Linked DNA regions of Homo sapiens: all the other regions are linked to region 1. Evidence: fine-mapped expression QTL. A gene starts in region 1. Each other region holds a variant in brackets. All regions are shown on one strand. Distances are between the middles of the regions. Region 1 holds the start of ABHD14B (abhydrolase domain containing 14B). Region 2 has its middle 24 kb from the start of RPL29. Region 3 has its middle 11 kb from the start of RPL29.

Region 1 (8,392 bases):
ATACCCAGAACAGCGTGTGGCATCCCCTAAACTTCTTAGAGAGGGAGAGAAATGCGGCACCAGTCTCTCAGAGCTTTGCTATTTTTTAGTATTTTTTAATCCTCTATGACTCGACATTTTTTCATTTTTTTAATGACAAGAATGATAGCATAAATCATTTGTGTACTTAAAAACACAAAACCTATATGGTTTGCCATAGAAAGTACACTGCTTGGCCGGGCGCAGTGGCTCACACCTGTAATCCCAGCACTTGGGGAGGCCGAGGCAGGCGAATCACCTGAGGTCGGGAGTTCAGGACCAGCCTGGCCAGCATGGTGAAACCCTATCTCCACTAAAAATACAAAAATTAGCCAGGCGTGGTGGCAGTCACCTGTAATCTCAGCTACTGGGGAAGCGGAGGCAGGAGAATTGCTTGAACCCGGGAGGCGGAGGTTGCAGTGAGCCGAGATTGTGCCATTGTACTCTAGCCTGGGTGACAGAGCGAGACTCTGTTTCAAAAAATATATATAAATAAAATAAAAAAAAAGAAAGTATACTGCTTGTGAAGAGTTTTTATTTGCTCCATGACCTAGAATTCACACTGTAGTTTTCATAGTAGAAAATGAAAACACAGACTTTTTCATGGTGCCACCTTATGTTGTGACCTGCCACGGCCTGTCCAGACCCTAGGGTCCAGTTGCCTCCCAGCCACACTTAAGGCTTCCCTAGACAAAGGGGTGGGGGTGCTCACCTGGAAGGTCAAGGGCCACGGCCCGGTAGCCCCTCTGTGACAGTAGCTGCAGTGTGCCCAGCTGCTCCCACGTGTGAGAGTTAAAGGCCTTTCCATGAAGCAGCACCACCTCCACCCTGCAGGCACACAGGGGAATGTGTTTGCTGGGAACCTGGTGTAGCCCACCTTTCTTTATTCCTAGGCTTCTCCCATTGCCCTCCCAGGACCTGAGCACCCTGAGTATAATGGGGGTCCCACACAGGGACTCCCCTTGAGCCTAGTCCCTCCACTAGACCCTTGGAGCAGCACCTACCTGTGTGCCTGGTTGAGTGGGAGCACCTCGCGGTAAAAGATGGGCGAGTTGCCAGGGGTGAGACCAGCCAGGACTGTGACATTGGGGTCTCCCCAGAGGCAGGAAGTCTGCTCAGGGGGGCCTGGCAGCCCCACATACAGTAGGAGCATGAGCAGCAGACTCAGGCCCAGCAGGGCTACCTGGGACCGGCTCATGGAGGTCTGTACCACAGTCTGGAGAGGGAGAGGAGAGGGAAAAGAGGCTGGAACTGAGTCCCTACAAGGACCCTGGATCCCATCCCAAAACCCCACCCAGAGTCCCCAGCAGAGGAAGAGCTCCAGCCCTTGCCCTTTCCCTTGCTCTGGGCAAAGTTCTGGGAGTTCACACTCAACTACTCCACATGCCAGGGCAAGCGCTCAGATACCTCACAGTGTGAGGAGGTGCATCTGAGGTGTTCTCTGGCACACAGCATGCTCAGTGACCGCCACCATCATGGCATCAGCTGAAACCACTTCCGTTCATCAAGCGCTTATGACAGCAGGCCCTGAGTGTGGCACTTCACATACAAGGTTCTTTTCCACCAAGAATGCTGGGGAGCAGACGTGATTATAGGTCTCTTATAGGTGAGGAAATGGAGGCTCAGAGAGGTACATTCTCTTGCCCAAAGTGCCAAGTAGCAAGTGGGGGAATTGGGGTTTGAACCTAGGAATGGGCTTCTAACTACCAGGCCACACTCGGTTTGCCAAGGAGGAACCCGTGGAGCTGGGAGATGATGGATGAACTGGAGCCTTGCAGGTGGAAAAAGTGATGAGGGCTATCAAAGGAGAAAGACTGCGCGCAAAGGGACCTCCCACTTAAGGGCATGTTTGGAAATGGTTCTTTTAATCTCACTGCATTTAATACTGCTAAAATCAGAACGCGTTTTACAATCGCATTATAACTAAGGTCTAACCCAGCTGTTATGAAGAGGCTCACAGAGAATGTCTTGTAATAGAGGAAAATGCTGAGGAGTGAGGGGCTGCAGGGCCAGGGAGGAGCATGGTACACCCAGAAATGAAAAGCACAGTGTAGAGGTTGGAGAGATGAATGCCGCCTGCTACTCCCCATCCTACACACAGACAGCTTCTGGCCAAATGACTGCTTCGTGGACTCCTCCAATCTGGGGTCTCTGCCACCCCAGAGGACAGCCCTTAGGACCCAGGACTCAAACAGGACAGGCCTTTGAGACTGCCACTTCCTGACCTTGTGTCTTCAGTTTGTCAGTAAAATGGGATAACCTCGTGGCTGCCCTCCTAAGCTTCCTGTGAGATTTAGATAATACCGTGGACTGGATCAGGGCTGTCCCTGTCATTTCTTGGGCCTAGGATGAGCACGCCTGCTTCCTTCCAGGAGTCCAGCAAACACATCTTTATTTTATTTTTATTTTTCTGAGACGGAGTCTTGCTCTGTCGCCCAGGCTAGAGTGCAGTGGTACAATCTCGGCTCACTGCAACCTCCGCCTCCCGGGTTCAAGCAATTCTCCTGCCTCAGCCTCCCGAATAGTGGGATTACAGGCTCCCGCCACCGCGCCCGGCTAATTTTTGTATTTTTTAGTAGAGACAGGGTTTCACCATGTTGGCCAGGCTGTTCTCGAACTGCTGGCCTCGTGTTTCACCCGCCTCGGCCTCCCAGAGTGCTGGGATTACAGGCGTGAGCCACCGCGCCGGGCCAGCACATCTTTATTGAGTGCCAACTGGGCGCCTGCCCGAACTAGGAGCCGGGGGCCCGTCTTGGTTCCTATTCATCCCTCCGGGATGTTTTGGGGATGTTTCCTGAGCCCGCATCCCCAGGCTTCGGGGTCGGGGGGCTTGTGAGCCACAGCAGCAGCCGCCTTTCTGCTGTTTCTGGAAAACCAGGACCTAGTGGAGGAAGAGCGCGTTCCTCTTTTCTTCCAGACCACTAACAACCTCAGACGCGCGTCTCTAACTGGGCGTTAGTCCAGATTCCCACCGGGCGCGAGGGACATTTCCTTGCTGCCCACTCGGGGCGCCCCCGCGCTTCTCCAAAGCGGGAAGGGCGGGGCTTAGGCTGTTGCCTTGGCAACCGAGGGTGCCCGCAGTACTAGGAAATTGTAGTGGACCTGCAGCTGGCCGCCTGCGGGGGTTTGCGGGGGGCAGGGTAAACTGTGCCCGGGTTAGGTCATTGGAATATGCGTTGACAATGACACACAGGTGCACACACGCACAAATACGAGTCTTGCCCCCACACGCTTTTCTTTTGCACAAGCTATTCCCTGCATGTACATGCAGCCTCTTTGCACACACACTGGCCCGTGTGCAATTAATCCCTTGTAATGGTACCCTCTACATCACGCACACAGTCAGGCATCAGGAAGCCAGAGAGACTGATGGAGATGCACACTTTGAAAACCACAGGCTGATCCTCAGAAATACTCAAGCACGGTCATACACACAACCGTAAGACTACACATTCACACAAGAAAGGCACATGCACAGGAAAGCAGACACGCACACACACACAAACCCCCAGAAATGCACACACGCAGACAGGTAGACACATACCCTTAAAATCACACGCACACAGAAATACACTCGGAAGACATAACGCTGACACAAGCAGGCAGACATCAACGAACACACCCCCCCCCCAAAAATATAAGCGCGCAGAAACCCACTGACGGACACCATGCAGACACACAAGCGTACACATACACCCAGACCCCCAAGAACATATGCAGACCCTGCGCGCGCACACACATTACACGCGCGCACATGCACATTCGCGGCCCCAGCGTCTGCTTCTTCCGCGGGACTCTGCCCCGGGGCGCCGGGGCAAGGGGCGGGGTAAAGACGGCCCTCCCCTGGGCCACCGGCCGGCCTCCCTCCCCCGGGAGACTCACCGGGCCCAACGGGATGAGCGGGCGGGCCCCGCCCAGGCGGAACCAGCAGCCGCACAGCGCCCCGACCATGGCTGCCTCCGCAGCTCCGCGGGCCGCTCCGGCTCTAGGCGGCCAGGAGCGCGGCCATCTCGGCGCGCCTGCGCACTCCGCAGCCGCGGGCCTGCAACCCAGTTACCGAGTCGTCTGCGTGGAGGGGGTGCTGGGGGCAGAGCCCCAGCGCTCTCTGGCCCGCTCCCCGCCCAGATTTTCGGAACTGTTTTTGGCTTGAGAGCCGGCGGAGAGCCATGTGGCTTCTTCTCAGTGGAACATCTCCACCCTGGCTCAGTTCTCTGGCCTGTATAATGGAGTTAAGGATAAAACCCACCGCACAGGGTTGTCCTAGGTTCTTAAGGACGGGTCAAGCCTCAGAACAGTGTCCGGAGCAGAGGCCTCGTTGTGTAAATGCCAGATATTGTTATGCAGCAGCTCCAGGTCTTGGCCGACCCACTTTCCTGACTCCTACCCACTCCTCCCCACCCCCTCCCCGACGCACACCCACGGTCAGAGCCTGGGCTGGCCCTGGGCTCGTTCACGTCTACTCATGGCGCCTGCCCTGGTTGGCGATGTGTTACCAACGTCTGGCCTGTCCCAGCCCAAGGCTCCGCGTGGCGACCAGGCCCAGCACTGGGAGGCTGTGCAGAGCGTGGCGTTTACTGCTTATTGCTACTCTGCAGAGGTTGGCAACATCTGACCCGCTCTACTGGCAGGAAACAGGCTCGGGGGCATTGGGAAAACGATCAAGGCCACTTGGCTGGACACTGGCGGAGCCTCGCACTCAAACCTGTCGGGCCTCAACTCCGTGCCAGGCCAACAAGTTGCCCTGGGCAGTTCAAGCTGGGGATAAGGGGGATGGGGAGCAGGAAGACAGCAGCAAGGATGCGATCCCGAAGGAACTTTCCTCCTCAGACTGCTCCATGTCCATGTGGGGCAGGTCGCTGAAGAGTTCGAAACCGTGCTCAGCACCGCGTTTGGGGCATGTGAGACCGAGAGGCTTTGGGAAACTGACGCCGCTGTGAGAACGAGTTTAGCGGAGTCTATGGACGCTGCGAGCTTGTGGCCACAAGAGGGCGCCCCGGAGCACGGCCCAGTCCCCGCCCCCGCTGGATGGGGCCCGGCCTCTTCCCAGCGTTCCTCCTCCGGCCCCAGGTCACCGCCAGCACGCGCCTGCTTCCCGTCTGCGCGAGTCCACGCAGCTCCCCAGGTACCCGCCCTGCACTCCTGACCCTTTCTTCTCTCCAGTCAAAATCCAACCCCACCTACCCCAAGTCTTCCTTTCTCGGATCCCTGGGTCCCCTCCTTGGGAGTTGCCACCATTCCCTCCCGGTGCTCCCTTCCAGAGCTAGCGAGCCAGAACCGTAGTCCGCGGAAGCAACCTGACCGCGAGGTCAACGCGTTGGGCCCCAGGTGGCAGCGCGTTGAGCACCCCGCATCCCCGGCGGGTCGCCTTTCCCACTGGGCGCTTCGGTTTCCGCCTCTAGAAAATGGGCTTTCCGGTGTGGAAGCGCGCCTGTGGTTCCAGCTACTGGGGGTGAGCCGGGAGGATCACTTGAGCCCAGGAAGGTCAAGGCTGCAGTGATCCATGATTGCGCCACTGCACTCCAGCCTGGACGACAGAGCGAGACATCTTCTCTTAAAAAAAAAAAAAAGAAAAAAAAAAAAACCGAAGAAAATGGGCTTTTAGTTCCGGCGCGGTGGCTCACGCCTGTAATCCCAGCACTTTGGGAGGCCAAGGTGGGTGGATCACTTGAGGTCAGGAGTTCCGGACCAGCTCGGCCAACATGATGAAACCCCGTTTCTACTAAAAATATAAAAATTAGGCCGTGCACGGTGGCTCACGCCTGTAATCCCAGCACTTTGGGAGGCTGAGGCGGGCGGATCACGAGGTCAGGAGATCGAGACCACCCTGGCTAACACGGCGAAACCCCGTCTGTACTAAAAAAAAAAAAACAAAAAATTAGCCGGGCGTGGTGGCGCGTGCCTGTAGTCCCAGCTACCCGGGAGGCTGAGGCAGGAGAATGGCGTGAACCCGGGAGGCGGAGCTTGCAGTGAGCGGAGATGTGCCATTGCACTCCAGCCTGGGCGACAGAGCGAGACTCCGTCTCAAAAAAAAAAAAAAAAAAATTAGCCAGGCATGGTGACGCACGCCTGTAAACCCAGCTACTCGGGAGGCTGAGGCAGGAGAATCGCTTGAACCCAGGAGGTGGAGGTTGCAGTGAGCCGAGATCATGCCACTGCACTCCATTCTGGGCAACAAGAGTGAAACTCTGTCCCAAAATAAATAAATAGAATAAAATAAAATAAAATGGGCTTTTTACCCCAATTTGGGCTCCCTCTGGCCTGCATTGACAACTCATGACCTGTAACTTACCGTTGATTGAGCACTGAGCCCTTACTACGTGCTAGGCATGGTACATGCATGGCCTTATTTAATCCTATCAACCACCTATGAGCTAGTACTATTGAATTATCCCCATTTATAGAAAAGGATAATAACGATGAGAATAAGAACAGTAATTGTAATGGAGCCCCACCACATATTGAGGTTTTACAGCAGGCACCCCCACTGATAATTTTTCTGTTTTTTGTTTTTTTGAGATGGAGTTTTTCTCTTGTTGCCCAGTCTGGAGTGCAATGGCGCGTTCTCGGCTCACTGCAACCTCTGCCTCCTGGGTGCAAGCAATTCTACTGCCTTAGCTTCCCAAGTAGTTGGGATTACAGGCGTGTGCCACCACAGCTGGCTAATTTTGTATTTTGAGTAGAGATGGGGTTTCTTTCTGCATGTTCATCAGGGAGATCTCGAACTCCTGACCTCAGGTGATCCGCCCGCCTCGGCCTCCCAAAATGCTGGGATTACAGGCGTGTGCCACCGCGCCTGGCCTAATGAGAGTTACATGTGACCATCAGCTGGCTCTTTTTTTTTTTTTTTTTTGTGACCGAGTCTCACTCTGTCACCCAGGCTGGAGCACAGTGGCACGATCTCGGCTCACTGCAACCTCTGCCTCCCGGGTTCAAGCGATTCTCCTGCTGAGTAGCTGGGACTACAGGCACGTGCCACCACACCTGGCTAATTTTTTTTTCTTTTTAGTAGAGACGGGGTTCCACCATGTTGGCCAGGGTGGTCTTGAACTCCTGACCTCAGGTGATCCACCCGCCTCGGCCTCCCAAAGTGCTGGGATTACAGGCGTGAGCCACCATGCCTGGCCGATAATTTTTCTTAAACTTTTAATTAAATTGCTAATTCTTGAAGTTGGCTTTATTGTTCCCATATTTCAGATCAAGAAGCTGAGGCCCCAGGTTACACACTAAAGTAAATGGCAGAGGCAGAAATAACACCTATGTCCTCCTGACCCCAAGGCATGTTCTTAAAGTTCTGGAAACCTCCTGGAGGCTTCCTTGCTGCTCCTCTGGGACTGCCACCCTGGGCAGGGTGTTCTGTGGCCCCTCATCATCGTGGTTTTGAACCACAGGCCCTTCACCAGCACAGCAGCAGCAGGCATGGCAGCAAGCGTGGAGCAGCGCGAGGGCACCATCCAGGTGCAGGGCCAGGCCCTCTTCTTCCGAGAGGCCCTGCCCGGCAGTGGGCAGGCTCGCTTCTCTGTACTGCTGCTGCATGGTATTCGCTTCTCCTCCGAGACCTGGCAGAACCTGGGTACACTGCACAGGCTGGCCCAGGCTGGCTACCGGGCTGTGGCCATTGACCTGCCAGGTACTTAAGGGGCAGGCTTCTGGGCAGGGTTTGGGGAGGTCTCATTAGGGACAGGGCCAGGTTCCTATAACATGTAGCCCCTCCCCACTCCAGGGGTGGGGGCGGTGGGATCTGGAGGACCCAGCCAGGCTGGGCCCTGAACTTGACAGCGTTTGGTCAAGCACACTGCAAGGGCCTCTGAGCAGTCTTGATCCAGATGTGGTCCTCACCGCCCAGCTGCTCCTCACTGTTACCTGGGCATTGTCTCAGTGTCTCTGAGCCTCTGTTTCCTCATCTGCAATGGGAGATAACCACACTCATGTTTTGGGCTCGCTCTAATGAGAATGGAATGAGATAATCCATGTGAGTATGTGGCTAGTACCTGACACAGAGTAATCGGTGCTCAGCCAATTGGAAGTAAAGTATTTTGACTGAATAATAACCATAGGCTTTTGGAAGCCCTAAGGAGTGAGACCTGAGTCTTCTGGGGGACAAGGCAGGGCCTGGTGGGTGGCCAGGCCCCCACTTGTGATCCCACATGCAAAGCCCTGAGCTGGGTTCTAGGGTAGATGGGATCAGTGCCCAGACTGCCTGTCATAACCCAGATGGCTGGGTCCCAACCCTCGGTGCCAGGTGTGAAAGGAGCAGCATGGCTGGCCCCACCCCCTCAGGCCAGGGATGGTATGGTTTCAGGGCTCAAGGGCGAGCCTCCTGCCCAGGCAGGATTGATTCCAATGGTGGGTTGGCTTGAGCTTCAGGGTGAAGGTC
Region 2 (10,732 bases), 45 kb before region 1:
GGTGTTTTCCTTTTATTTCTGCATGCAGCACCAAACAATAATTGCACTTATTCTCAACATCTAGAATAATTTTCTTCTAAAAGAAAACCACAAAAAGTCCCAAGTCAATTAGCAAAAACATAGGAAGCCACCTTCATTTCAGGTCACGTGAAATAAAACCCGTGTCCCATGTTTTCCTTGAAGTAAATTTAATTATTTCTCCAAAGGCCTGAGGCCATGTGGAAGGGGCCTAAGGGAGGCCAGTGTGAGAGATCCCAAGGAGCCCTCTGTTTGGGTCAGGCAATGGGTCCAGCCCTGCTTCTGCACAGCACCCCCCACCCCCTCACCCCTGCTCAAAGGCCTCCTCCCTGATGAAATGCAATCCTCCCAATGTGGCTGACTGACACTCCTCCCCACCCCCTAATCTGGACAAACCAATGTTTCCACCCACTTCTTGATGCCCACTCCCTCACTCTCTGCTCCTGGGATTTTCGTTCAATGCTCCTTCCTCCTATAATTGTCTTCCCCTCTCTTCCCCTCACCAAGAGCACATTCATTTTTTGGGGTCTCAGTTTATATGCCTCTTCCTCCAGGAAGCCCTCCCTAACCTCACCAGGCATTCCCACAGCCACCTGTGCACCTTCTCATTCTGTCCTGTACCTGGCACAGAGAATGTACCCAGAAAGTGTTTTTTGAATGAATGACTTCCCCCCGGAAAATGACCTCAGAACTCTGGGTTGGCCTTATCTGAACCATGCTGGCTCTAAGTTCGTTGTCAAACCCCAGAAGGGTACAGGCTTCCCCTGAGCCCTGGATGCTGGTCTGGGACCTGGGGATCCCTGAACTGAGGGGCAGGAGGGTGTGTGTGTCCTGAATTCTTTCTGAATGTGGTCCTGTGATCTGGGACTAGACCAACTGAGGGCCCTCTGTGAACAGGAAGCAGGAAGGAGAGCCGGGCCTCTGTTCTCCCACCCAGTCTCCAATTTAGAGGAAACGCAGCCTATAATTTGGAAGGCTAATTTGGTCTGGGGTTAGAAGGGAGCTCTCTGTGTGCCGAATGATGCCACGCTCTCCCAGGGGAGGAAGCATCCCCTCCCTGGGGACCTGGGGCCTCTGCTCTCAGTTCCAGGCCACACTGCTCCAGTGTGCTCCCTCCTGAGGCCTGAGCTGGGGCCCCTAGAGAGTCAGGCAGCCGGTCCTCAGCCAGGGGAGAAGGAGGGAGGGAGAAACCCAGGGCCACACTCCTTGGTCACTGACTGTCCGGTCCACTGACTGACTGGTGCTCCCGGCATCAGGAAGAACTAGTGGAGGGTCTCCAAGGACCAAGTCCACATGGTGAGCATTGCCCCAGGGTGCCCCTGGCCAGCAGGTCATGCCCATTCAGGCAGGAGCTCAGGAGAAATGTGGGCAAAATGGGCATTGTAATGACCTGGTCCAAGAAGCCTCACTCTCTAGCAACCCTGACCCCAATTCCTGCCACTCCCCGAGCTTAGGCACACTGAGTCATTTAAGGTCCTTCCCAGCATGATGGCCGCTGTCATGCTGCTTTTCCTCCTCCCCTGGGAAGTCCTCCATGTCCACCAGGCTGGTCAGGAACTACCTCCAGGCTCCTTGTCTAACAGGTACCTGGTTGCTTCCCCATTGGGATAGGGGCTCTGTGAGAGTGGGTTCCAGTTGTGGTCACCTTGGTGGTCAGAGCCCTGGCCAGGGCCTGGCTCAGCAGAGCTAGTGATGACGGACAGGCAGAGAGGCTGCACCACTCACAGATGTATGGCCTTGGGCAAGGCCTGGCACTTCCCTGGGCCTCAGTTTGCTTGTCTGTGGGCTAGGCACAGAGCAGTAGTTCAGTATTTGATGACTAAGTGAATGAATGCATGCATGCATGAATGAATGAATGAATGAATGAATGAATAAGGAGTTGGACTGGACAGTCTCCAAACCCTGGAGCTCAAATCCTCTACAGTTTCTCTCTCCTCATTTGAGTGCTAGTCTCTCTGCTCAGGCTTGTGTCAGCAAGGACTGGGGAGGGGAGAGGTCCTGGGGTCAGTCAGGGCAGACAGGAGCTGCAGGGAAGCTGAACGCTGGGATAGGGTGTCGGGTGACAGGGTCTGGGGAGAGGCGGGGCAAAAGACTCTTCAGGGTGAGGGGTGAAGGTGCCCATCCCTGGACCTGGTGTTCCAGGACCCCAGCCTGCCTGCGGCAGCGCGCCATCCCCACGACACACCACCCCAACTCACCCACAACCCAGTGGCTTCTCTTGAAACTTCTGCTCGGCTCCAACAGTCTGTCACTGGGGCTGGTGATTCACACACTCCGCTCTTCTTTCCTCTTCCCAACTAATTATAGCTCCTGCGTGTTTTTCCCCCTGGAAAAATGTCTTCTTAAAAAAAATATATCCCCAAGCCAGTGAAAATTAATTGGGTGAGCATCACTGTGTACAATTCAGACTGGCTCCGAAGACAGGCAGGTCCCAGGTTGTGGGGGCGTCTACTGCCCAGCAGAGGAAGGACGGGCGTGGGACGCAGGGTGCACATGGGGACAAGCAGCAGAGGCTCCACCCAGCCCCCATCCGACTGGCCATGGCTCTGGGGATCCTGAAGAATAACCGCCACAGTGATGGTAACGGGGACTCTACTGAGCGCCACAGCATGCTGGGCACAGTGCCAGATGCCTGCCATGTGCATTGACATTTAACCTTCTGATGCCTGCTGAAGCTGGCCTTGGAATTGGTTCCACTCTGTCGAAGAGGAAACTGAGGCTCAGAAACTCATCCAGGGTCACACAGCCATAGTGGGGGCGTTGGGGGTGACCATGAGCCATGTGGTGCTGGGAGTTGGGAGCCAGGGTGGGGGGGCATGGCCAATGGCCTGACCAAGGGGAGGCCCAGCATCATTAGGCTCCCCAAGGGACAAGCAGAGCAGGCACGCGGCCCTCTGTCTCGTCTCTCCCTCGCTTGCCTCCTGGGAATCACAGGAGCTCCCCTGGCACTGGGCCAGAGCTGAGACTACAAGTCCCCTAAGCTCTTCATGGGGCCCAGTGCGTGGCAGTTGGAGCAGATGTCTGAGCAGGCATCCTGGCCAGGCAGGGAGGGTTCCAGAGTCACAATGACAAAGAGGTGGAGATAATCAGAGACAGGACAAGAGAGAGCCAAGCAGAGCTAGAGAGGGGACAGGGAGTCACCAGTCCAACTGCAGAGGCAGAGAGGCAGAATGGAGACTGAACCAGAGACACAGCCGGGTCTGAGTCTGAAACCAAGGGACAAAGATAAAACCCAGGGAAACAAGATGGAGAGACACAAGGGAGAACCAGAGGGCTGCTGTGTAGGAGACAGCCTGGAGAGAGGCAGCACCGAGAAAAGAACAGGAAAAGGAAGGTGGAGGCCCACGGCCTCAGGCCAGGCCTTGCTGGGGAGGGTTCCTAAGAGCAGGGGCAGGCAGGGGTGCTCCAGGCCTGCTTTGGGCGTTGGGAACATGGTTCCTCCCAGCCTGTATCAATCTAGGAAGACTGCCTGGAGAGTGGCCCCAGAGCAGGAGAGCATGTGGATGTTAGGACATTAGGAGAACCGAAGGCATGGGGGGCAAGGGAGCAGGTAGGAGGTGGCAGCCACCCTGGGCCCATCCCGGGAGAGGCTCCTTTGGAACCCGGTCTCTGAGGGTGGCCAGTCTCTCCCTACCCCAGCTCAAAGGCAAGGACCCTCCCCAGGGGCTGAGGAAAATCCAGGCAGAGTTAGGCCAGCTCATTTCCTGGATGGAGAAGTGAAGTCAGTCTGAGACAACCCCTCAGCACCCCAGTCCCCACCAGCCATTAGGAAATAAACCCCCTCTACCAGCTCCAAAGGCCAGGGGCCTGTCTCCCTCCTTACATTCCTAAGCTAGAGCCAGGTCTCCTTCAGCCTACATCCTTTAGCCTTCCCAGAACCCTTAGGGCAGAAGCTGCCTCTACCCTTACCTCCAGGCCAGGCCAGAGACTGTCTCTCTCCAGGCCAGGGCAGGACCCCTCTCCCAGACCCCTACCCCACTCTGCCTTGGCAACCCAGAAGGTGTTGACGGCCTCGCTAACCACAGGCAGACTGCCCTGGCTCCAGCCATCACCTCCCCCAACTTCTCTGGACCCCTGACACGGCCGCTGGCTGCCCGGGGTCAGGGCTTGGTACCCAGGATCTATTAGCCAGGCAGCTGTCGGGATTTCCAGCACGGGGGGACCTCTGGGGCTGACACCTCTGTCAGCCACTCTCTTGTCTGGAATCTGCTGGCCAAGTCTGCACTCTTCTGGGGTCTATGTCTGGACCCTAGAGCATCTGCCATGAGAAAAAAGGACACAGCAGGAAACAGGTGGCCTTGGGTGGCCTTGAGGCCAGAAGACCAGCACAGGCCTTGAGGATGTGCCCTTGAGCCCCAGGAATGGAGAAAGAAGTGGCCAATGGGTCCAGGCAGGAGGGTTGGTCAATGCAGAAGGGCACCCGTGCAGCCTCCTCATTCTTGGTCCATGCCCCTCAGTGGGCCCGGACACTGTGATGACCAGGACATTGGGATGGAAACACCTTTTTCGTGGGCCCCCGGCTAACACACCAGGAAATCTCCTTTTCCAATAACCCATAACAGGAGGCAACACAGGATAGGGTCTGGAGTCAGGCAGCCTGGCTCCTTCCAGCTCAAGCTCTGGGGAGATGACTGAGCCTCAATTTTGTTATCTGTAAAATGGTGCTGCCAGTAATTCCCTTCTCAGACAATGCTGTGGATAAACAAGATTTTGCACATGAAACAGAAACATAAGTGGCCATGCTTTAGGCAGCCCAGCTCCTACCAGAGGCTCCAAACGTCTCCCTGGAGCCCCCTTTTTTCCTCTAGGCCCCTCCTGGCAGGAGGTGACAGGCAGTCCTCAGTCTCCAGCCCCACTGCAGCCTGGGGAGGCCCAAACGAAGACCTGAGGGAAAGGAGAAAGTCCGGATGGGGGCAAGGAGCCAGGAGACCTTGGTGTGGTCCCCTCCTGGAACGGGCCACTGGCAAGCCCCCTCCCTCTCGGGTTTCTGAGCAATGGGGATTGGACTGGATGAGTGCCTTCCTGCTCCCAACTGGAATCCTCAGCCACCCGCTTCTCTCTGCCCCTCCACTCTGGCCCCGTCCCCTTCCAAGCCAGCCTGGCCTTTGGCCTTAGCTCCTCTGACAAGAAGAGAGGGAGGAGGGCTTGCCTGCCCCCATGGGAAACCATTTTTAGCTCCCTGAGGAACTCGGCGTCCTCCCAGCAAGGGTGCGTGGGTCGTAGCTGGGTATTAATAGCTCAGCTGGAGGAGGTGACCGGGACTTTGACAGCCAAACCCTGGAGGCCTCCCATGCTGGGCAGCAGAGCAATCCCCCTGTCGTCCACCCCTCCCTTGCTGGCTCTGAACTCCACCACTGCTGTCCCCCAGGGGTGCTCTCCTCCTCCAGCCCCCACCCCTCTGCCCCTCACACAGGACTGGTTTCCCCCTTGGTTGAATCTTCCTGTGGTCCCCTGGGGAGGGGAGACCTCTTGCCCCAGTTGTGGGTTGGTGCCTGAGGCCGGTTTGTGACCAGGCCCCGTGGGAGGTGAGAACAGAGAAGCCTGTGATAAGGCTTCCCCCTCGCACCCTTTTCCGCTGCCCGCTGGCCTCTCATTCCTGCTTGCTTACTCCACCCTGGCTCCTCCACTGGCCGCCATGTGGGCTGGTCCCCAAATGTCTCTCCACGCTGGGCCCAGAATGGAGAAGAGGCGGGAAAACCCAGCTGGCCGAATGGAGGCCTGGAAAAGATTCCCTGGACAGTACTGCCTGTCCCCTGCTCAGGTGGGACATATGAGGCCTGAACAGGCCGCAGGGCTACCTCTTGGAGGTAGCCTGGGAAGTGATGGGGCCCTGGGCTGTGACTGGGGACCTACAGCCTTGGCTCAGCCCCGTCCCTGAGGCCCCCATGCCGTGGAGGTAGGGAAGGGGCACGAACCCACGCTAGGTGTCTCACACACCCGCCTCAAACACTCATCCGCACTTAATATCTCAGCTACCCCTGGTCCCTCGAGGCTACAGCCTTGAGGGTAGAAATCGGCAACCCAGAGGGAGCGTGATCGACGTGAAGGTGGGTGCTGTGATCACCCACATTTCAGAGATGAGCAGCCAAGTTTTCAGGGGAAGCACACCCTGGGAGCAGGCAGGCAGCCGGGGCTGGAGGCCTTCGGGAACAAGATTCGGTCCAAGCCCTTTGCTTTCTTTCTAGAGTCACGGTCTTGCTCTGTCATCCAGGCTGGAGTGCAGTGGCACTGTCATAGTTCACTGTAACCTCAAACTTCTGGGCTCCGGCGATCCTCCTGCCTCAGCTTCCTGAGTAGCTGGGACTGCAGGCGCGTGCCACCGCACCTGGCTACCACCCTGTGCGTGGTCATGTCCAAGCCCTAGACGCCCATTTTTCAGGCATCTCTTTGTTACCAGTCCTGCTCTGAGTCGTCTCCAGAAAATAGGAAGGCTTCTGGGTCTTTGGGGACCTCTTCCTCAGGCAGTCGTGGCCTTTGGGACTAGCCTGAGTCCTGACGAGGATGAAGGTCCAAGCTCAGTTTGGGGTCGGAGTCAGGGTCAAAGGTCAGTTTGCGGTGAACAGTGAACCCGGCCCTCTAACTCCTAACTCCAAGCTGAGTCTGGACCTCTGACTGCTAGACAAGACTGAAGCCCAAACCTTTGGGCCCCAACTCTAGTTTCTTTTTTTTTTGAGACGGAGTTTCGCTCTTGTCGCCCAGGCTGGAGTGCAATAACACGATCTTGGGTCACCACAACCTTCGCCTCCCGTGTTCAAGCGATTCTCCTGCCTCAGCCTCCTGAGTAGCTGGGATTGCAGACACGCGCCACCACGCCTGGCTAATTTTTTGTATTTTTAGTAGAGATGGGGTTTCTCCATGTTGGTCAGGCTGGTCTCGAACTCCTGACCTCAGGTGATCCACCCGCCTCAGCCTCCCAAAGTGCTGGGATTACAGGCGTGAGCCACCGTGCCCAGCTAGTTTCTAAAGTCTCAACCCTTAGGCCCAGGATGAATCTGGGCCATCAACCTCTGACTCCCAACCCAGGCTGAGCCCCCAACCCGGCCCCAGGCCTAGGGAATACTG[G/A]TCCCCACTTGCCTTCTGAGGCTGTGTCCTGGGCTCACCCGGCTCTTCACCTCTAAATCTCAACCTGGAGGTGGCCCTGCGTGCTCCTCACACTCCCTCCTCAGCCACCCCCGCCCTGAGTCTTGAAGCAGGCTGACACAGGGACACATCACACCAGGCGATGTATGACTTGGAGGAGCAGAGGCTGGAAACATATGCTATTTCTGGGCTGGATCTTATTGGTTTGGACCGTGAGCAAAGCAGAGCCCACAGCAGAGGGAAGGGAAACAGGCAGACGGGCCCTCAAACACACAGACACCACACTGCGTGGCGGGATGCAGGGGTCCTTGGGTGACCTGGCACTAGAACCACGCTTCCCTGGGACAGAGAGGCCAGCGTCCACACCCCGACTTGGAGGAAACAAGTTTAGATAAATGTGACACACACATCCCCAACCCTGCAGCTAGTTTTTTTTCTAAGGAACCCATATTCCCGGTGGCTCAGAGTGGAAACTGGATCCAAGTCCCGGCTCTTCCTATAAGCTCTGAGACCTGAGGCAAGCTGCTCAGCCTTAGCCTGGAATAGCCTCAGCATCCTCATCTGGGAAATGGGACTGTGATGTTATCTTCCTTTTGGGGTTTTATGAAGACAAAACACAACCATAGAGACGGATTTCCTGCACAAGGCAAGAGCTCACAAAGGGGCAGCTACCAATATTTTCCCAGTGACCAAAGGCAAGCTGCTTCAGTTGTGGGGTCAGGTATCCCTTCACCCCTCACTTCCGCCTCTACCCAAGAACTCCTGGGGGACACATTTTGGAAACCCTTAACTTAGATTCTAGGCCAGCAGCAGGACCAAAAGTAGCGTTAGCTGACAATTACAGAAGCCGGAACAGCATGGAATTTGTCAGCATGGAATTAGGTCACAAAATTCTTAAAACAGAAGAGCCACAGAAGCCCAAAAGGCTCAACATCCTAGGATGCAGACCTCCCCTGATTTCCTGGGCTGAAAATGGCGAGAATTGACCAAGACAAAACGAGCTCTTGCCTCGGACAGGAGCGTGGGGACTCCGGGCTCTTTCACTACATGTCCCAGAGCACCCAGGGAGGGGGAGGGCTCCACCATGGTCTCCGAATCCCCTCATTTCCTGGTGATTGCCTGCTTCCCCTCCTCCTCCAGCTCAGATGCCCTGGATGTCCAGCCATTTCTAGAGCACCCCCAGCCTGGTCTGGCCACCTCTACTGACCCCTCCTAAGACTCCCCACCCAGGTGCTGAGGTCCCCTGGGGTGAATCCCAGGGAGCTGTCCCTGCTGCCCTCAGCCTCCAGGGCCCTGCAGAGTGGGCTCCTGACATGTTGGTGACCTCAGGCTCTATCCCCTCTGTCCTCTTGCTCCTCACAAGTAGAGTCAGGACAGGAATTGGCACTGTTGGAAGGTGAGTGCCCACCCACGTGCGGGGCACCTACTGGGCTTTACGTCCATCATCTCTGATCCAGGAATCCCAGGGCCAGATTGGGGCTTGACATACCCAAGTCCACATGGCTGGGAGGTGGCAAGGGAGTTTGGCGTTTGACCTAAAGCTGCTGTCCTGAAAAGGGAGCTGTGAAGAGAGGTCCCAGCTGTCGGACGGGCTACCCCTCAACAGGCAGCAGCAGAGCCCAGCAGCCTGTCCATGCTGCACCCCGATTTCTCGGGGAGAGGCCCAGCCTCCACCATGGCTGGCTGAGCCCTGCCCCCCGGTGCCAGTCCCACATGACCTTTCCAGGTGGCTAATGAGAACCTGGGCACCACTCAGTAATTGGCCTCATTAGGTACCTAGGGCTGCCCAGGGGATGGGGTGGCGGATGCTGGGCCCCGTGGGGACTGGCCAGACAGCCGCCTGTTAATTACCTGAAAAATCAGACAATTAGGCTTCCTGCCACCTGCCTGCCCACGTCCTGCTGGCCCCTAATTACTGAGCGGCTGCTGAACAGGCTGGGAGTGACCTGGATTTGGACCGAGGACCAGCCCCTGCCATCTCCCCCATCCCCCACCCCCAGCCTCCATCGCATGCTGCAGGGACAGACAGCTGGGGTGCAGTGTGTCTTTCAGGGATCTTCCCCTGGAGCCCCCAGCCCCCTTTCCTAGCCCTGTTCCCTTCCTGCTCACGATCTCTCCTGCAGAAGGTAGCTCTGGAAGAGAAGAGATGGATGCCCGAAGCCCTGGTAGCCCTCAGGGAAGATGGCTGCTAGGGGAGTGGCAAAAACCCAGAAAGCGGCATCCAAGAGGTCTTGCTGAGGTGAAGTGGCTGCTTCCCCTCCTGCTCAGCTCTTCCAGGGGAAAGATAGCAGACTGTGTTCAGGAGTAGGAATGGCAGATAAGAGGAAGTTAAAAGCTCTCCTGAGAGCCCCGGCACAGCCCAGGGCATGCTGGGGGCCCAGGCCTGCCCTTGGGGAGTCCCCTCACTCAGAAGAGGAGATGGAGCTGGACAAAGCAAGACAAGCGTGCAGGGCCTGGCCTGACTAAAGTGGTCCTGGAAGGCTTCCCAGAGGCAGTGACCTTTAGGCTCCGTCAGGTGAGGTGTACACTGTCCCAGGCAGAAGGAACAGGGCGTGTGAGGGTCTGAAAGTGGATCCTCCCCTACAGAAAGCACAGACAGAGAGGCAGGGCACTCCCTCTGCAAGCACCGACCATGCACCAGGCAACTGGCTGGAAGCAGCTAGATGGGCCCTACCCCAGGAGGGAGTGGGGTGGACACACTGGAGTCTAGAGGGAGGCTGATGTGGGATGTGGGGCCTCCCGTCATCAAGGTCCAGCATGCAAGAAGTACCTTGGCCACCTCCTTCCTGACCTGTTTCCTTTCTTGGTTCTGTGCTAGGATTGAAAGTCCCTTTCTTTGTTTCCCTTGGGGACTTGGAGGCCCAAAGGTACCTGCTCAGAAGGGTACTCCCAGCCCAAAGAGGTCAAGAGACTAAGCTGAGTTCACCCACCCAGTTGGCTGGAGTGGGCCTCAGAGAGGTGTCCACTGTAGTCTTCCAGTGGGGTTCTGGCCCAGCCAGAGATGAAGCCACCACAACGAGGTAGGTTAGAGACAGGAAGGAGATGGGACTGCACTGGGAGGCTGGACACCAGCATTTGAGAGCTGCCACAAAAAAGTCACGCTACCCCCTCGTCCCTAAGCCTAACTCCAGGGTGGCCCCCTAGAGGCCTTGCTGCCAACCCACGCCTTCCCAAAGCCATCCCTGATAAGAAGGCCAGGAAGGCTTTGCGGACTTCCTTTAATGCACGCACTGGATCCTGGGGCTTGGTGTAGCCTGAGGCCAGAAGCTGGGAGCAGAGTCTGAGGGCAGAGCAGGTGAAGTCCCTTCTCTCCACCCCTTTCTGCTGGTCTGGGCTTCCTGACCATCGCGGGGGCAACTGCTCTGTGCTCTGCAACCTAAATTGCAATGGCTGCCGAGGTATTTCCTGTCAAACACACTACTTTGCTGTAGTGTGGCGACTACCGCAGGGATATGGGGCCTCCAGGCTTCTACCAACAGCCCCCAGAGTCAGAGTCCTGTGACACATGCACACGTGTGCACCCAACCTGGAGCCCCAACTGCCTGGTCGTCTCTGGGTCCACCTCTGCTGCATCATCATTGTCCACTAGGGCAAGCTGTACCCTGCACAACACCAGGATCCTGCTTGCACACAC
Region 3 (10,732 bases), 32 kb before region 1:
TCCCATTCTGTAGATGAGGGTGTGAAGACCCAGACAGGGGCAGTCCTGAGATCACACAGCCCAAGAACTAGGCTCAGCCTAACCCTTGAGCAGGTGCTCCTCACTGGTACCAAGAATGTGGGTGTCATGGCCATTCACTGCTAACTGATGGGCTGGTGGCTTAGGTGGCAGCAAGAGTGAACCTCAGAGCCTCAGGGCTGTGCAGAAAGTATGGCAGGCATGAGGCCTAAGCTGAGGAGCAGGAGGCAGAAGTCACAACAGGAGGACAAATCCTGGTTGGATCAGGCCTCTTGCCCTACTCCTTGGACAAGGCAAAGAGTTCCAGGTACACGGGGGTGAGGAAAGAGGTAGCAAGGGACAGTGGCCTCAAGGGGCAGCCTTCAGGTGAGGAGCTGGCTGCAGAGACTCACAATTGTTGGCTTTTTTTATTCAAAATTTTAAAAAATTCACCGGGCATGGTGGCTCACACCTGTAATCCCAGCACTTTGGGAGACTGACGTGGGTGGATCACCTGAGGTCAGGAGTTCGAGACCAGCCTGGCCAAAATGGTGAAACCCGGTCTGTATTAAAAATACAAAAATTAGCTGGGCGTGGTGGTGGGCACCTATAATCCCAGCTACTCAGGAGGCTGAGGCAGGAGAATTGTTTGAACCTGGGAGGCAGAGGTTGCAGTGAGCCAAGATCGCACCATTGCACTCCAGCCTGGGCGACGAGAGCGAAACTCCGTCTCAAAAAAAAAAAAAAAAAAAAAAATTAAAAGAAAAAAACATCGGATGGGTTTGGTGGCTCACGCCTATAATCCCAGAACTTTGGGAGGCCGAGGTAGGTGGATCACCTGAGGTCAGGAGTTCGAGAGCAGCTTGGCCAACATGGTGAAACCCTGTCTCTACTAAAAATACAAAAATTAGCTGGGAATGGTGGCAGGTGCCTATAATCCCACCTACTCAGGAGGCTGAGGCAGGAGAATCCCTTGAACCCAGGAGGCAGAGATTGCAGTGACTGGAGATCGCACCATTGTACTCCCGCCTGGGTGACAAGTGCAAAACTCCGTCTCAAAAAAAAAAAAAAAAAAAAAAGAAAAGAAAAAAGAAAAAGAAAAAGGAAAAAAAATCAATGGGACTCACAATTGTTTTACAGCGTTCCCTGCCTTGTTCCTGCCACCAAAAGCCATCAAGCCTCCCATAATCCTTCCCAAGTGCTTCATATTCTACCATCATAGCATTGAGGATCCTGGATTGAAATCCTGTATCTATTGCTCCCAATGGGTGGGGAGCTTCAGTAATTTGCCCACTTTTTTTTCACAGCTTGCCAGGTGACACAAGGGGGACGGTCAATGAATATTTCTTAAATGGGTGGTTAGTTAGTTAAATGGACAGATGGATTGTTGGATGGATGGTTAGATGGATGGTTGGATGGACAGTTGGATGGATGGTTGGATGGATGGTTGGATAGGTGGTTGGGTGGATGGTTGCATGAAGGGCTGGCTCGTTAGTTGCTGTGTTAGTTTCCTATTGCTGCTGTAACAGATTATCACAAGTTTCATGGTTTAAAACAACACAAATGTATTATCTTACAATTCTGGAGGTCAGAAACCTGAAAGGGGTCTCACTGGACTAAAATCAAGGTGTCAGCAGGGTTGCATTCTGGAGGCTCTAATGGAGCATCCATGTCCTCCTTGCCTTTCCAGCTTCTGGGGGCTGTCATTTTTTCTTGTCTTGTGGCCCCTTCCTCCATCTTCAAAGCCAGCAATGTAAGACCAAGTCCTTCTCATGCTGCCATCTCTGTGGTTCCTCTTCTCCTCTTAAGAACCCATATGATTACCTTGGGCCCACCCAGATAATCCAAGATAATCCCCCTATTTTAACACCAGATGATTAGCAACCTTAATTCCATCTGCAACCTTAATCCCCCTTTGCCATGTTAAGTAACATAATCACAGGCTCTAGGATTAGGATGGAGACATCTTTTGGGGGACATTAGTCTGCCTATTACAGATAGATAGATGGTTGGTTGGATGGATGGGTAGATGTATGGATAGATGTATGTATGTATGTATGGATGGATGGATGGATGGATGGACAGATGGATAGAGGGTTGGATGGATGGGGAGATGTATGGATAGATGTATGTATGTATGTATGGATGGATGGATGGATGGATGGATGGATGGATAGAGGGTTGGATGGATGGGGAGATGGTTGGATGGATGGATGGCAGACTAAGCCCTCCTGACCCCCCTGCCTTTGATGGGAATGAACAGCTTGAGACAGGTCATACGTGTTACCTCCCATCTCCTGTACTCTCTATCACTATTAATATAGTGCAAGAGCACTGAACCAGGAGAGGGATGTTTGCCAGGAGTGTCGCCCAGTCGCCCAGGCTGGAGTGCAGTGGCGGGATTTCGGCTCACTGAAACCTCTGCCTCCTGGGTTCAAGCGATTCTCCTGCCTTGGCCTCCCGAGTAGCTGGGATTACAGGCTTGCATCACCACACCCAGCTAAATTTTTTGTATTTTTAGTAGAGACGGGGTTTCACCATGTTGGCCAGGCTCGAACTTCTGACCTCAACTGATCTGCCAACCCAAGCCTCCCAAAGTGCTGGGATTACAGGCGTGAGCTACCGTGCCTGGCCACCCTGCACGTCTTTCTCTTGCATTTTATCTTTCCAAATGACTTTGGCGCTCCCAGAGGTAGGGAACTCTGTCCCACTTTCCAGCCTAGCACTCCAAACGATATTTGACTCTTACCTGCTGGTAAATGAGAGAATAACTTTGTGGGACATTCAGTCGGGCTGGGAGATTGAGAGGGGGGAAGGGATCTGGGATTCGCACCCCCTCTAGCTGAGTGTGATGGGATATCCATGAGGGGTAGCAGGGAGAGGAGCTCAGCCCCCAGAACCCACCCACTTGGGTGGGATGTTTTACTGGGGAGAAGAAGGTCAATTAAGTTTGTGTTTATTCCTTGTTTAATCTATTTAAATACCAAATACTATATATACACACACACACATATACTATATATATGGTATATATACACATTATAGTATATATGTGTATACACATATACACACTATAGTATATATATGTGTGTGCAGATGTATATTGTATTTATTTATTTATTTTTATTTTATTTATTTTTTTGAGACGGAGACTCGCTTTCGCCCAGGCTGGATTGCAGTGGCGCGATCTTGGCTCACTGCAAGCTCTGCCTCCCGGGTTCACGCCATTCTCCTGCCTCAGTCTCCTGAGTAGCTGGGACTACAGGTGCCCGCCACCACACCCCGCTAATTTTTTTTTTTATTTTAGTAGACATGGGGTTTCACCCTGTTAGCCAGGATGGTCTTGATCTCCTGACCTCGGGATCCGCCCTCCTAGGCCTCCCAAAGTGCTGGGATTACAGGTGTGAGCCACAGCGCCCGGCCTATATATAGCATTTAAACAGATTATATATATAGTATTTAAACAGATAAAACAGTAGTATTTTTTATATATATATATATATATATATATATATATATTTTTTTTTTTTTTTTTTTTT[G/TG]AGACCGAGTCTTACCTGTTGCCCAGGCTGGAGGGCAGTGCTGCGATCTTGGCTCACTGTGACTTCCACCTCCCAGGTTCAAGTGATTCTTGTGCCTCCCAAGTAGCTGGGACTACAGACATGTAGTACCACCACACCTGGCTAATTTTTGTATTTTTAGTAGAGATTGGGTTTTGCCATGTTGCCTAGGCTGGTCTTGAACTCCTAGGCTCAAACAATCCACCCAACTCAGGCTCCCAAAGTGTTGAGATTACAGGCGTGAGCCACTGCTCCTGGACTAAATACAGTATTTGATTAATATAAAAGAATATCAGGCCAGGCACGGTGGCTCATGAGTGTAATCCCAGCACTTTGGGAGGCCAAGGCGGGTGGATCACGAGGTCAGGAGATCGAGACCATCCTGGCTAACATGGTGAAACCCTGTCTCTACTAAAAATACAAAAAATTAGCAGGGTGTGGTGGCGGGCGCCTGTAGTCCCAGCTACTCGGGAGGCTGAGGCAGGAGAATGGCATGAACCCGGGAGGCGGAGCTATCAGTGAGCCGAGATCGCGCCACTGCACTCCAGCCTGGGTGACAGAGCGAGATTCCATCTCAAAAAATAAATAAATAAATAATAAAATAAAATAAAATAAAATAATATCTGTGGCTGGACGTGGTGGCTCACACCTGTAATCCCAGCACTTTGGGAGGCCGAGGCAGGTGGATCACCTGAGGTCAGGAGTTCAGGACCAGCCTGGCCAACATGGTGAAACCCTGTCTCTAGAAAAATACAAAAATTAGCCAGGTATGCTGGTGCATGCCTGTAATCCCAGCTATGCGGGAGGCTGAAGCAGGAGAATCACTTGAACCTGGGAGGCGGAGGTTGCAGTGAGCCAAGATGGCACCACTGCACTCCAGCCTGGGTGGCAGAATGAGACTCTGTCTCAAGACTCTATCTCAAAAGAAAAAAGAAAAAAAAGAATATCTGTAACGGACAATGCAGACAGTGCAAAATAGTATAATTGACACCTGCGATCTACCATACAACACAGAATGGGCACGGAACTTGCCTTGCTAGACCATAAGCTCCACAAGGCCCGGGCTTCATGTCTGCCTTGCTCATGCCTGTATCTCCCCACACCATGAAGAGTGCCCGGCACCCTGTGGGCCTGTGGCAGGTGTCCGTGGGTGGGGTCCCCCGTGTGGGTCTCCCTATCCAGCTCCTGCCTCTCCTCGAGTATGGCAAATTTTGGTTTAGCACTTCCTAGCCTGCAGATAGTTCTGTCATCATACACACCTGAACTCCTAAAACTATATCATTTAGTTATACTTCAGGGGGGCTTTATAAAAATGGCTTTGAACTGAATGTAGTCTCCTGCAGTTTGCTTTTTCACCCACATGATGGTTCAGGATTCACCCATGCTGCTGTCGGAGCTGCAGCTGATTTCTCAATTTGCCTGTCACCGGATATTTGAGTTTCTCCTTAGGAACAGTGTTGCTAAAAATGTCTCTGGGGTCGGGGGAGGGAGTTATTGTCATTATTATTATCACTGGTCCTGTTCCCATTCAAGCAGGTTCACACTCCCTCCTCTCCTCCCAACCTCCCGCAAGCACAGCCACTTCCCAGTCCCATTGGTGCCCCAGAATGAGGCTCCCTGTGACCTGAGCCAAACCTGGGTGGGGGTGGGAGGGGGTGTGGGAGGGGGCACAGCTGTAGGGAACTTCTATCTGGATCCATGCCCCTGCACCCCACCTTGAGTCACCCCCAAAAGCACGTCTCATCCCCCAGGCCCTATGTTTAGAATAGGATGGAATGGGAAAACAGACTGCAGTTGGACAGTGCCGGGTTCAAAATCAGCCCATCACGTCCAAGCCATGTGACCTCAGACAAGTCCCCCTTTCTGAGCCTCGGTCTCCTCACGTGTGATGGGGGATAACCTCAGTGCTGTCCTCACAGAGCATCTCAGCGCCAGAGGTGCTCAGTGAAGGGCAGGGAAGCTGAAGTCGTAGCTGTTGCTGTTTTCCCAAGGGCAGCTGCTATCTATGCTCCATCTTCCCCAGATGCTGTCAGGAACTTCAGAGAGCATCTAATCCAGACCTCTTTTACAGATGAGGGAACTGAGGCAATGGCGGGGGCTGGGAGCTCCCAGCCTGTTCCCTGCTGCAGGACAGATTGGTCCAACACCAGTATGTCCCCACTGCCTCCGTGCACATGCAAGGGACTGCCATCCTGTCCCCCTTCCGCCATGCAGCCCTGGACCTGCCCTTGAACTGCTTGTACAGCATCCTGCTCTGGCCTGGCCCTGGGGTATGAAGATGGGGATGGCAGGGGGGCAGCAGTGACCTCCACCTCCCAGGTTCAAGTGATTCTTGTGCCTCAGCCTCCCAAGTAGCTGGGACTATTACCATGCCACCTGACCCCAGGCTTCTGCCTGGGCCCTGAAGTCACCTTCCACTCTCCCTGAGGCCCTGGAGTCCCCACTCTCCCTGACCTGCCCTGCTGCACCTCGAGAGACCCAGGTCCTGCCTGCCCAACCTGGGCATAACACCCACTCTGCTCTGAAGGGTGGTCACGGGACTTGCCCCCTCTGCAGGCACCAAGGCGGTTGGGAGTGAGTGACAGGGAGCCTGATGCTGCTGCTCCAGACAGATGAGAGGCTGCCTGCAGAATGGGGGTGGAGGCAAATGCTTGATTTTGCAGTTGCATCCAGTTATCAGATAAGGAAGTTGAGTTCAGTGTCACACAGAAGGAACAGGACATGAGACCAGACCTGACTCCTCTTGCCTGATGCCCAACACGGCTTGCATTCTGGTGCCCTGTGGGAGGGCAGGGAGGAGGCTCCTGCCCAGAGCATCTACAGGGGGAGTCTCCTCCAAATCCGGTGTCTGTGCTGGGAGGAGCACCCCCGCTGCAGCCAGGCCACTTACCCTCAGTGATGCAAGTGCAGGGGTCAGGGCCAGCCCTTCCCCAGGTTTTCTCAAGAAGCACTGTCCCCAGGGAGCAGGCCTGAGCCTGGAGGAATGGGCGAGAAAGGGCCAGCCTCCCTTCAACAAGCTGCACTCCTTCCCACCTGCCGACACTCACTCTTCTCCACTTCCTGTCAGGGAACCCCCTCCTGGCTGCGGCAACATTCCCTCCAGGCGCCGCCCCCGCAGCCCCCAGGCCCCTCCTCTGCGCCAGGGTGGGAGCTCAGTAATTCAAGTTATTTTTAGCCAAGCTGCATCCTCCAGGAGATTGGAGTCAAGGGGAAGCCACCCCCGCACCTCCAGGAGCTGCTTGCGGAAAGAGTGATCGATTAAAACCAGTGCTGCAAGGGCCCTGTGCCAGGCAGGCAGCAGGCGCTGAGACAGGCAGAGCCAGGACCGTGGGCCTCTCACCCGCTGGCTCCTAGGCACTGGTGCCGCGTTGTTAGGAGTGGTGGGGGTCCCCACATGTCCCTCACTGCCACCGCTCAGCAGCTGCTTGTCAGCCCAACCTCATCTGACCCTGTCCCCAGCAGCCCTGCCCACGGGGAGGAGGGCCACCGCAGAGCCATCCCCTTCTCTTATCCCCACTCTGGGCGGGATTCTTTGCCTCTGTCCCCACCAGCCTCTGCCCACCAGGGGAGATTGGGGAGGGCAGAGAAGGACCCCCATTTTGCCTGCCTGGTCATCTGTCCAATCTGAGCCTTGTCCTAGGAGACCTGCTGGGTGGGCAGGGACAACCCTGACCCCCTGACTGCCAGCACCTGGCCCTGAGGATTACTGGGAAATGGGGACCAAAGCCGCAGGTGGGCACAGGAGTAGGCAGGTGGCTGGGGGATTAACCAGGGCTGAGGAGTGCCTGGGTGAGCCAGTGACTGAGCAATGTCCACAGGCCAGGCCCTGGTAGGTGCTCGGAATGAACAGGTCCCTGGATCCCCACCACAGCCTGCCAAGTAAGTGATGCCCTGCTCCCCCTCTCCCAGATGAGGAAGCTGAGCCTTGGGGTTGAGTCTCTGCTCAAGGTCACCCAGCTGCCTGGCATCCAGGCAGGTCTGGACCGTGCTCCCCAGCCCTCGCCAGTGGCTGCCTGCTGAGGGGGTGCCTGAGAATTTGAAGAACTAATGAGTGGGTATGGGGCCGATGTAGAAAGAGGGACTAACAAATGCAATATTGCAGGGGGACGCCTGCTGGATGAGGTGGGCCCGAGTCTCCTAGCACCTGTCCCCACCTTCCATGGACACCTCAGCACTGTCCACCAGAGGGTCACTCCTTCCGGTAGGCGTCCCCTTCCTTTTCTCAAGCTGTCATCTTGGGATGACACTTCCTACACTTGGGTGACACACTTCCCACCTGAGTGTAAGAGTCTCAGGCAGTGTCCACGCCCAGGAGAGTTTCAAGGAGCGGCTTTGATGGGGAGAAAAAGCTGGGTGATCACGGGCAAGTCGCTTTACTTTTCTGAGCCTGTTTCCTCCTCTGCAACGTGGGATTAACAGGCGAGGACACTCTGAGGGTGTGGTGAGAACCAGCCACAATAAAGGCAAAGCTCCTGACTCCAGCCCCCAGCAGCAGGCCCCTTTCTCTGCTGGCGCCCAGGACTTGGGCTGTGTGCGGGAAAGGCAAGAGCACCCTCTTCCGGCCAGGCCTTGGGGTCTTCAGGGTCGCAGCGACAGCTCAGGGAGGTCCGGATCAGCTGGGAGAGCTATGAGAGCAAATGCCAACCTTCACCCTCTCCAGCCCACTGTGTTCTCTCCACCTCCACCTGATCGCACAGGGCCTGCCTCATCTTCCAGGGAGGCTCCCAGGGCGCTCCTCCAACCCCAGAAGGTTTCTGGAGCCTGCTGGCCTGGCTTGAATGGAGCCCTCTCTGGTCTACATCTAGGGGTGCTGTGCCCACAGCTTCCTCCCCTCCCAGCCTCCCCGGCTCTGCATACCGTAGGTGCTCCAAGTGATCATGGCAGTAGCCCTGGCACAGCAGATACAAGAGGTTTGGGGCTGGGACCCCCTCCCAGGACCTGTCCATAGCTCTGTGTCTGCCGCCTCATGGGAATCTTGTGTAGCCTGTGTGGCCGACCTTGTTTACGTGGAGGTGGGATTGGGCCATTTAGCAGCCTCTGAGAAGTTGAGTGACTTGCCAGGGACACAGTCAAGAAAGGGCTGCCCTTGGGCCAGAACCTGCTGCCTGCAGCCACAAGCCCTTCGTGCTCAGGGGACACTCTCAATGGGACCTTTAGAATCCCCAGCCCTCTCAGAATTCTAGCTCCTCTCTGATCTTGCTAGAGTCCCGTGTGCCGCCCTAAACAGGGCCAGAACTCATTCTCCTTCCTTAGCCTATGTTGCGCTGGGGCCTGGGAGGGGGTTACTGAAGCACTAAGTTTAGGAAACCCAGGAACACCAATGGTAGGGAGGCAGGCACCTCTCAGGGAACAAAAGTGGGTGAGGGCAGCCAGGGGCTTTCTCTGGACTCAGGAGAGAAACATCAGCAACTGCCTTCCCATGGGGTGCAGGTCTCCTGTGGCCCTCTGTACCTAGCCACTCCTCGGGCCAACGGTAGCAAATGCAGCCTCCACCCTCATCCCGGCTCAGGCCTCTCTGGTTCCCTCCCTGACTCTCCAATACTCACTGTGTGCCCTTGAGTAAATTCCTCCTCCTCTTAGACCTCAGTTTCCCCACCCATTGGCTTAGAGAGGGGAACTAGATGATCTTCAAACCCCCCTGCTCCAGCGCTTGTTTCCTAAACTCCGCCAGGGGCTCCTGGGTCACAGCCTCTGTCTCCTGGGAGGGAGTGAGGACTGGGAGACTTGGGGCTTGAAATCTTTGGGAGAAGACAGCTCCCTTGTTCATTCAGAATAATTCTTTCAAAGGTCATTTCGTCCTGTCCTGTCTCCATCTTAAAGAGTTGTCCATCTGATCCCTAGGAAGGGGCGGTCCTGGGATGCAGCCAGGGCATTAACCCCAGGACTGCTTGGTGAGCAGAGAAGTCCTTTCTCCCCAGCCCGCCAAGTCTCTCTTTAGTCTGAGCTGGGAAGAGAGGGAGGGAGGGTACAGGCGAGAGGTGCATCCAGGCAGGATGGGGTTAAAGGAGAAAGGGAGCTAGAAGGGGGCTGTGGTTGCCAAGGCAACGACATTGCTGGGGCCATTGGAGCCTGCTGGGGAGGGAAAGGAGAGGGGTGTCCCTCCCAACCCTCAGCTTCATTCTTCCTTTTCAGATGCTCTTTGTTAAAAGGGAATCTCCGTAGCCTCCTTTTGTGGCTGGGAACAGGAGTGGGGAGAGATACTTCGGGCTTCCATCCAGCCCTGTCCAACACCCTCATGTCACCCACCTACCCTATCCCTTCCCTCCCATCCTTCCTAGCAGGTCGGTTTTCTGTGCTGCTGGACTTTTCTTCCATTTATACTTGGCCAGTCCTTGGCTGCCTGAGGCCAACTGACCCCAGCCCAGGCCTGCTCAGGCAGCAGCCTGCCCTCCACCCAAGGACACTACCACCTCCTTTGTAGGCCTGCTCTGGATGTGGCAGGTGTGTCTGGCAGAAGCAGGGGCTGGCACAGAGGATGCCCTCACTCTGGGCATCCGTTGGCCATAAAGGCCACGGGCTTCTCTCGTCACATGGCAGTCACTGTCACAAGGCCCCCTCCATGGCCTCATTGGGTACAAACCACCCCGTGCCCCCCCAGATTCTGGTAGGTGCCTGGACTGCAGTAGCTCTCCATTTGGCTGTGGGACCTCTAGCCAGTCATGCCCAAGGACTCCATCTCCCCACCTGTGAAGTGGGGTGATAAAAACCATACCCCCTCCAAAGGCTGCTGTGCGGTCTCACAATCAAACCCGCGGGCCTCCCAAATGCACAGCGAGGCTCTGGGAGGCTTCCTGCCTCCTCAGCCCTGGTGCTACTCGCCTCCACTGTGGCAGGCAGGCTCCAAGAGGTGAAGATGCTCTGCTGGTGAGTGGCAGTCAGAATCGAAAACCAAGTCTGTCTGATGCCAAAGCCTGTTCCTTTAACCCACAAGAGGCATCGCCCTTGGGTAAGTCTAAAGTGGGCCAGGAGGGGCTGTGCCCAGGGATGCCCACAGGCTCTACTTCCTCTGCCTTGAACCCTCTCTGGGGGAAGACAACTCACCACCACCACCAGGAACTTGGAGCTGAGGGAGACCTGACCCAGCCTAGAGAACCTGTTCAAAATAGACAGGCACTGAATCTGGAGGTGGGGGTGGTGGGGCGTGCTGAGAAGCGCAGCTGTGAAAGGCCTGGGAGGCT

The links. PIP is the estimated chance that this variant, and not a neighbour inherited with it, causes the effect. A credible set is the group of variants that fine-mapping cannot tell apart.
Region 2: its variant is the best candidate, but not a certain one, in a credible set for the expression of ABHD14B in whole blood (INTERVAL, PIP 0.80).
Region 3: its variant is the best candidate, but not a certain one, in a credible set for the expression of ABHD14B in Th2 cells (Schmiedel 2018, PIP 0.59).

The regions. Positions count from the first base shown.
Region 1 is chr3:51,970,713-51,979,104 of GRCh38, reverse strand. It overlaps ABHD14B (abhydrolase domain containing 14B), which reads left to right and starts at 5,056. Exons shown (of 4, transcript NM_001146314.2): 1 at 5,056-5,140; 2 at 7,407-7,645. The coding sequence starts at 7,435. ABHD14A-ACY1 (ABHD14A-ACY1 readthrough) reads right to left here and starts at 4,041. Exons shown (of 17, transcript NM_001316331.2): 1 at 3,901-4,041; 2 at 1,023-1,234; 3 at 731-846. The coding sequence starts at 1,158. ABHD14A (abhydrolase domain containing 14A) reads right to left here and starts at 4,041. Exons shown (of 5, transcript NM_015407.5): 1 at 3,901-4,041; 2 at 1,023-1,234; 3 at 731-846. The coding sequence starts at 3,969. RefSeq lists silencers at 2,838-3,132, 3,738-4,117, 4,948-5,117, 5,338-5,487 and enhancers at 4,718-4,897, 4,931-5,867.
Region 2 is chr3:52,014,335-52,025,066 of GRCh38, reverse strand. No RefSeq gene overlaps it. Among named protein-coding and RNA genes, the nearest start is that of RPL29, 24 kb to the right of the region's middle. RefSeq lists enhancers at 758-1,137, 4,810-5,572, 5,573-6,335, 9,414-9,483, 9,159-10,038. The variant G/A (reference allele first, on the strand shown) is at 7,081.
Region 3 is chr3:52,001,764-52,012,495 of GRCh38, reverse strand. No RefSeq gene overlaps it. Among named protein-coding and RNA genes, the nearest start is that of RPL29, 11 kb to the right of the region's middle. RefSeq lists an enhancer at 7,147-8,027. The variant G/TG (reference allele first, on the strand shown) is at 3,537.